2 linked regions of the Homo sapiens genome follow. The protein of the gene in region 1 purifies or fractionates together with the protein of each later gene. This does not show direct contact. Each region holds a gene or a part of one and is shown in the gene's direction. Other genes may lie near its edges.

Evidence for each region.
Region 2: the proteins of WFDC9 (region 1) and TXNL1 purify together in Homo sapiens (affinity purification with mass spectrometry; one large-scale study listed by BioGRID and IntAct). This does not show direct contact.

The regions. Positions count from the first base shown.
Region 1 is NC_000020.11:45,624,780-45,628,610, reverse strand, and holds part of WFDC9 (protein WFDC9 precursor), read left to right. Parts: intron 1-3,831.
Region 2 is NC_000018.10:56,596,848-56,600,778, reverse strand, and holds the end of TXNL1 (thioredoxin-like protein 1), read left to right. Parts: 3' UTR 1-3,570; downstream 3,571-3,931. UniProt on the Homo sapiens protein: Active thioredoxin with a redox potential of about -250 mV.

The DNA.
Region 1 (3,831 bases):
TTGACCCTTCCCAAAGGCTCTCTCTTTCCTAGTTTTTCTTTTTGTCCACTCATAAATGAACAATTTAGAGACTGGACACTGTCATAACTATCCTAGCAAAGAGGGGTTATATAGAGGAGAATCATCATCTCAAATAGAAGCTGCATTTTCCTTACCCAAGCATCTTGCAGCCAGTGCCACAATGTAAATATTTTGGCTAACAGACTTGTCACTACTAGGTCAAGACCCTAAGAAGATGGCAAGTCTCTTTCACACTCTTTTTCTTTTCCACCAGCTCAGTATAGATGACAACAAGGTTCTAGAGCCTAGTGAAGCCAAAAGGTGAAAGGAGCCTGGGTCCTTGACTTCTTTTATCACATGAAAAAAGGATACCCATTGTTTTAGAATACTCATTTTGAATTATTATTTGAGCAAGAAATAAAAAGTATATTGTATTTCAGTTATTATGTGATGGAGGCTTTCTGTTAAAGCAGTCTAGTCAACATTGTGGCAGGCTCAAGTACTGACATTTATAAGGGGAAAGATTTATGGGTATATAGAAGGTCTATACTTTATACATTCAAATTATTGATAGAGTAGTAAATTTAGTAAAGAGATGGGTAATTTGAACATTATGATTAATAAGCTTGACTTAATTAAAATATACAGAAGTCTGCATAGAAAAACTAGAGGAACACATTTTTCTCAAGCACAAATAAAACATGTACAAAAAGTGACTATACATTAGGCTATAAAAAAAGTCTGAACAAAATTTTAAAGAATTACATCACAAAGGACATAGTTTCAGACTATAATGGAAATAATTAGAAATTAGTCTAAAAAAAGACAATTACTCAAAACTGAACAGAAATTTCAAATTAAAATATATAAGTCAGAGCTTCCAGGTGGCTACCACTGAACACTTAGAGGTTGTTGGAGAGCAGCATGCTCATGGAGGGCATGGAAGCTCTCTAGCCTTTCCCCATATCTCACCTTATGCACCTCTTCCTCTGTATCCTTTGTGATATCCTTTATAATTCAAAAACCTAGAGGAAATGGATAAATTCTTGAACACATACAACCTACCACACTGAACCAAAAAGAAACAGAAGAACCTGAACAGACGAATAACAAGTAAGGAGATTGAATCAGTAATAAAAAGTCTCCCCTGAAACAAAAGTCCAGAACCATATGGCTTTACCACCAAATTCTATGACCCTTTAAATATAAATTAATACCAATTCTTCTCAAACTATTCCAAAAAATTGATGCGGCAGGAATTCTTCTTAGCTCAATTTTATGAGGCCCACATAACCTTAATACCAAAACCAGACAATAACAAGACAGCATAAAGAAACCCACAGGCCAATATTCCTGATGAAAATAGGTGCAAAAATCCTCAACAAAATACTAACAAACCCAATTCAACAACACATCAAAAAGATAATGTGGCATGATCAAGTGGGATTTATCATACGAATGCAAGAATGGCTCAATGTACACAAATCAATAAATGTGATACTTCACATCAACAGAATCAGGGACAAAACCATACGGTAATCTCAGTAGATACAGAAAAAGCATTTGATAAAATTCAACACCACTTTATGATAAAAACTTTCAATAAATTATGTATGAAAGGAAAGCACCTCCACATAATAAAGATCATATATGACAAACCCACAGCTAACAATATACTTAACGGTGAAAAGCTGAAAACTTTTCCTCTAAGAACTGAAACAAGATATAGAGGAAAGGCTAGGGAGCCTCCATGCCCCTCCATGAGCATGCTGCTCACTTTACCCACTCTTATTCAACGTAGTACTGGAAGTCCTAGTTAGATCAATCATGAAAGAGAAAACAATAAAGGACATCAAAATTGGAAAAGAGGAAGTCACATTTACCCTGTTTGCAGACAAGCTCTTATGTAGAGAAAAACTTAGACTCTACCAAGAAACCTGTAGAACTCATAAAGAAATTCAGTAAAGTTACAGGATACAAAATAAACATACAAGTCAGTGGTGTTTCTATGCACAATGAACTAGTTAAAAAAAGAGACCAAGAGGGCAATCCCATTTATAACAGCTACAAATAAATACCTAGGAATAAATTTAACCAAGGAGATAAAAGACTTCTACATTGAAAACTACAAAACACTGATAAAAGAAATTGAAGAGGATACAAACAAATGGAAAAACTTCCCATGCTCATGGATGGAAGGAGTTAATATTGTTAAAATTACCATACTACCCTAAACCATCTACAGAGTCAATGCAATCCCTATTAAAATACCAGTGACATTCTTCACAGTAATATAAAATAAATCCTAAAATATGTATGGAACCACAAACATCCTAGAATAGCCAAAGCAATCCTTAACAAAAAGAACAAAGCTGGAGGGAACAGGTTTCAAGACTTCTAAATATACTACCAAGCTCTAGTAACCAAAATAGCATAGCACTGGCATAAAAACAGACACGTAGACTAATGGAATAGAATAGAGAACTTAGGGCCAGGTGCAGTGGCTCATGCCTATAATCCCAGCACTTTGGGAGACCGAGGCAGGTGGATCACATGAGGTCAGGTGTTCGAGATCAGCCTGGCCAACATAGCAAAACCCCATCTCTACTAAAAGTACAAAAATTAGACGAACATGGTGGTGCATACCTGTAGTCCCAGCTACTCTACTCTGGAGGCTGAGGCAGGAGAATCACTTGAACCTGGGAGGCAGAGGTTGCAGTGAGCCAAGATTGTGCCACTGCACTCCAGCCTGGGCAACAAGAGCAAGACTCTGTCTCAAAAAAAAAAAAAAAAAAAAAAAAAAGAATAGAGAACCTAGAAATAAATCCATGCGTCGATAGCCAACTGCTTTTTGACAAAGATGCCAAGAACATTCACTGGGGAAAGGATAGTCTCTTCAGTAAATGGTGCTAGGAAAACTGGATATCCATATGCAGAATAATGAAATTAGACCTTCGCCTCTCACCCTATACAAAAATCAGCTAAAAATGGATTAAAGATCTAAAGGTAAAACCTGAAACTGTAAAACTACTAGAAGAAAACACAGGGGAAATACTTCAGGACATTTTCATGATCTTACAAAAAGATTTTTAATATAAGATCTCACAACCATGGGCAACAAAAGCAAAAATAGGTAAATTGGATTATATCAAACTAAAAAGCTGCTGCACAGCAAAGGAAACAATCGACACATTGAAAAGACAATCTACAGAATGAGAGAAAATATTTTCAAAGTATTTGATGTGGTTTGGCTCTGTGTCTCCACCCAAATCTCATCTTGAACTCTAATCCCCATGTGTGGAGTGAGGGACCTGGCAGGAGGTGATTGGATCGTAAGGGCAGTTTCCCCCATGCTGTTCTTATGATAGCGAGGGAGTTGTCATGAGATATGATTGTTTAAAAGGTGCAGTTTCCCCTGCATGAGCTCTCTCTCCTGCCACCATGTAGGACGTGCCTTGCTTCCCCTTCGCCTTCTGACATGATTTAAAGTCTCCTGAGGCCTCCCCAGCCATGTGGAACTGTGAGTAAATTAAACCTCTTTTGTTTATAAATTACCCAGTCTCAGGTAGTATCTTCATAGCAATCTGAGAACAGACTAATACATTATTCATTTGACAGGGGATTAATATCCAGAATATACAAGAAACTCAAACATCTCAACAGCAAAAACACAAACAATCCAATTTAAAAAATGGGCAAATGATCTGAACAGACAATTCACAAAAGAAGACATACAAATGACCAACAAATATATGAAAAAAATGACTTCATTGTTCTCTCAACATCACTAATCATCGGGGAAATGCAAGTGAGAACTATAATGAGGTATCA
Region 2 (3,931 bases), on another chromosome or scaffold:
CTTTTATAATCCTTCTGAGTTCTCTTTGACATCAAGCCCCACGTTGTTCCCCAGTCTCAATATTCTGTTGGAGGCAGCCACGTAACAATTAGAGTTGAAACCTGCCCCACGTTGTTCCCCAGTCTCAATATACTGTTGGAGGCAGCCACGTAACAATTAGAGTTGAAACCTGCCCCACGTTGTTCCCCAGTCTCAATATACTGTTGGAGGCAGCCACATAACAATTAGAGTTGAAACCTGCCCCACGTTGTTCCCCAGTCTCAATATTCTGTTGGAGGCAGCCACGTAACAATTAGAGTTGAAACCTGCCCCACATTGTTCCCCAGTCTCAATATTCTGTTGGAGGCAGCCACGTAACAATTAGAGTTGAAACCTGCCCCACTTTGTTCCCCAGTCTCAATATTCTGTTGGAGGCAGCCACGTAACAATTAGAGTTGAAACCTGCCCCACATTGTTCCCCAGTCTCAATATTCTGTTGGAGGCAGCCACTTAACAATTAGAGTTGAAACCTGTCTGCCATCCTTTGTCTCAATGTTTGAGGATGTATGCAGTGTTTTTGGCAGCGATTATAGGAATGCAGTTGTTTATTTGGCCTCAGCAGTTTATTTATGGCTGCAATTAATATCCCTGATCATGGGCTTTTAAACCTAAAATAGTTCAGATCCTCCCTTGTTCCTCTTAATGTCTAAAAGCTTTGATTCTGTAATAAGAATAAAGTGTTGGAGTTGAATAAATTAGTTACACCCTTTGTAAGCTTTAAAAACATGAAATTTAAGGCTTACTCATGTTGCTTGTATTGATACTCATATAGTTCAATTTAGTAGGTTAATTTTTGTGTTAGGTATATCTCTTCTGGAACTGATAATTTGTAATCTTAGACTATTTTTTTTTTAAGATAAGTAACTTAGAGTAAGAAATCCAGCTGGGAACAGTGGCTCATGCCTGTAATCCCAGCATTTTGGGAGGCCGAGGCGGCTGGATCACTTGAGGTCAGGAGTTTGAGACCAGCCTGGCTAACATGGAGAAACCCTGTCTCTACTAAAAATACAAAAAATTAGCCAGGCATGGTGGCAGGTGCCACACCCAGCTACTTGGGAGGCTGAGGCAGTAGAATCGCTTGAACCCGGGAGGCGGAGGTTGCAGTGAGCCAAGATCGCATGACTGCACACTAGCCCGGGCAACAGAGTGAGACTGTCTCAAAAGAAAAAAAAAAAAAATCCATTCACAGAACTGCTAAAGAAAAACTAGAGGAATATTTTGCTCATTTAGCTTTAAAACTCATTATTAGAGGTGTGTATTTTACAGTTTTGTAAATATAGATTATGCTTTATAATACACATAAAGCAAGTATATATAACATGCATATAGTAAATAAATTTTAAAATATTGACTATTCCCCAGTTAAGCCTATACTTCTTAAGGAAGACTACTGATGTCATTTTAAGCATGTTTCAAAATTCAAGTTTTATTTTTGATCAATAAGGTTTTTTTTTTTTTTTAACATGCTCAGCACTATAGGAATAAGAGGACAGTGGAGATTTGTAGGCTAATAAGATCGCTTTTAAACTTTGTGGTCCATGTAAAATTATTAGTTGGAGAATGTGTAATTAGAGAACTATAAGATAAAGAGATAACCTTTAGAATTTGAATGTACTAAAATTGTACACAGCTTGGAATATTAAAATCTTAAGGATATGCAATGTTAAAACTGCTAGAGTATTTTTCCTTCGTGCTTGCTATGCTTCTCTATGGGAAGAGGAATTTTATTTTGGAATTATTTCTAAGTTGAACAGACCAGAATTAATTGTGAAAACATGATCTGTTGGTTTATAATTGGACACGCATTTGGAGATACTGGCTCATCATACTACCTAGGAGCAAAATCTCTGAAGTTTGAATCCCTGCTCTTCCACTTGTTAGCTGTGTCATCTTGAGCAAGTAACATCCTTCAGAGCTCAAATTTCTTCTTGTGTAAAAATAGGAACATCTATCTCTTAGACTTGTTCTGAAGATGCGCCTTACTTTGTATCTGGAACAAGGATAAGTATCTTCTGTATCCTGCTCTCAGCTGTCACTGCTTTTTAGGCCATCATTACTTGCTTGGCATACTGCAGTGCCTCCTAATTGTCTCTTTGTTTCTGCTCTGGCCTCTCTCATGTATCCCCCACATGGCCGCTGGTTCTCTTTTCTTTATGGGGTCTTTGTAATGTAATCTCTCCTCCTCTAGCCTCCCCATGCCCCTCATTTCTCCAGTGTGCTGTGCTGTATTACCAGGTAGCAGAACGTACCCTAATATCGCATGCCTTCCTCTGACCTAACTTTTCCATCTGACCAATTCCTACTTATCTACAAGGCTCAGTCCAAGGAAAACTGATACCGGGAATAATCATAACAATTGTGCACGCCTCCTCAGCTGCTATGACACCTTGCCATTATTTCATCCGGATACTTATCAAGCTACTTGTAATGATCTGTAGTCTTATTTGGACTACTAGATTGTGAGCTGTAATACAAGTATTTTGTCTCTAGTATTAAGCCAGTTTATTTGGTTTCTATCATTAAATACAATGTTGAAAAAATTCTCAGGGTCCAAGGGGAGATGCTTGGGTTGAGTCAGAGATAAAGTAGGAATATGCAGTTGAGGAAGGTAAGGAAGATAATTTAGCTGAAGTAAAGGAAAAGTGCATAGTGTGTTCATAGAGTGGGAGTTAAGTGTAAGAGACATTCTAGGGAAGTGAAGGAGAAGCTGAAAGAGCAAGTAGAGACGGTAAGGTGAAGCTCCTCTTGCCATGTGAAAGAGATCAAACTTTCTCCTTAATTTATGGGAGGAGCGAGCATAGAGAAGTCTGTGATGTCTCACAAGGTTCTCACTTTTACAATTGAATATAGAAGTAGCTCTTAGGAGAAGCAGAACGTTCAGAGGGGAAGATGAATATGGTTTTGGGTACATTGCCTTAAATTGCATTTTTGGTATTTGGGTGGCGATGTCTAGTAAGTAAAAAGCCAGGAATGTGATTTTAGAGCTTAGAGCTAGAAGCAAGGAACTAGGAGTTGTTTAGATGATGAAAACTGAAATATGTATATGAATGGGAATTTTTAGAATATAAAGGGAGAGAATGAAACTAAGGAGCAAATGTTAGGGAATCCTAAGAAATATTAAAGAATTGGGAAAAGAGGAACCTGGAAGGTAGAGTAGTAAACAGGAAAGGGAGGAAAAACAGGAGGTGGTAATAAAGTAGTGTTAATGAATCCAAGAGGGAGCAGTCACCATCTTCAAATGTGATATTGAAATTAGCTGGGATGTCCAGTTGTTTAATCCATTAAATTGTGGAAACAGTCTTTCTAGTGCTTAATTATAGGAATCATTGATCATATTAATAAACTTTCAGTTGAAGCATCAGCAGATAATTATTCCAAAACCCTCTGGCAAAGAAATGTAGATGCTTTTATAGTCTACCATTGAACACAGTTTTACATGACACTTGGCAAAACTTGGAGATGGATGGCACTATTTTGTAAGAGAATATGAAACACTGCTTTGAAGTTGTCATTAAAGGATCTTATCAGGTGCTTTTTCTCTTGTATTTTGTTTATAAATTTTGTCCTATCTGTCATTCTAGTACTGTTTTTCTTGATTGCTTTTGTTCTCTTAAAAGTTTCTAATTTCACATCACAAAGATGATTCCTGTTAGAGTCCTGAATGGGTCATTGAGTTGCCTTAGTAATAAGGGTTCTAATTTTGGGGGGCATTATCAAATATATTAATTGTTAATACCTGCTCTTCTGGGGTTTCCAGTAAAAAGGAACTCCTTCATTAGATCCCTGTAATCTCCCTGTGACAAAGTATAGTAGAGATAGTATCATAGTTTCATTTCTCTGGTCATATAATTATCTCAAAGGAATTGACACATTGACAGTATTAAGGATGCTG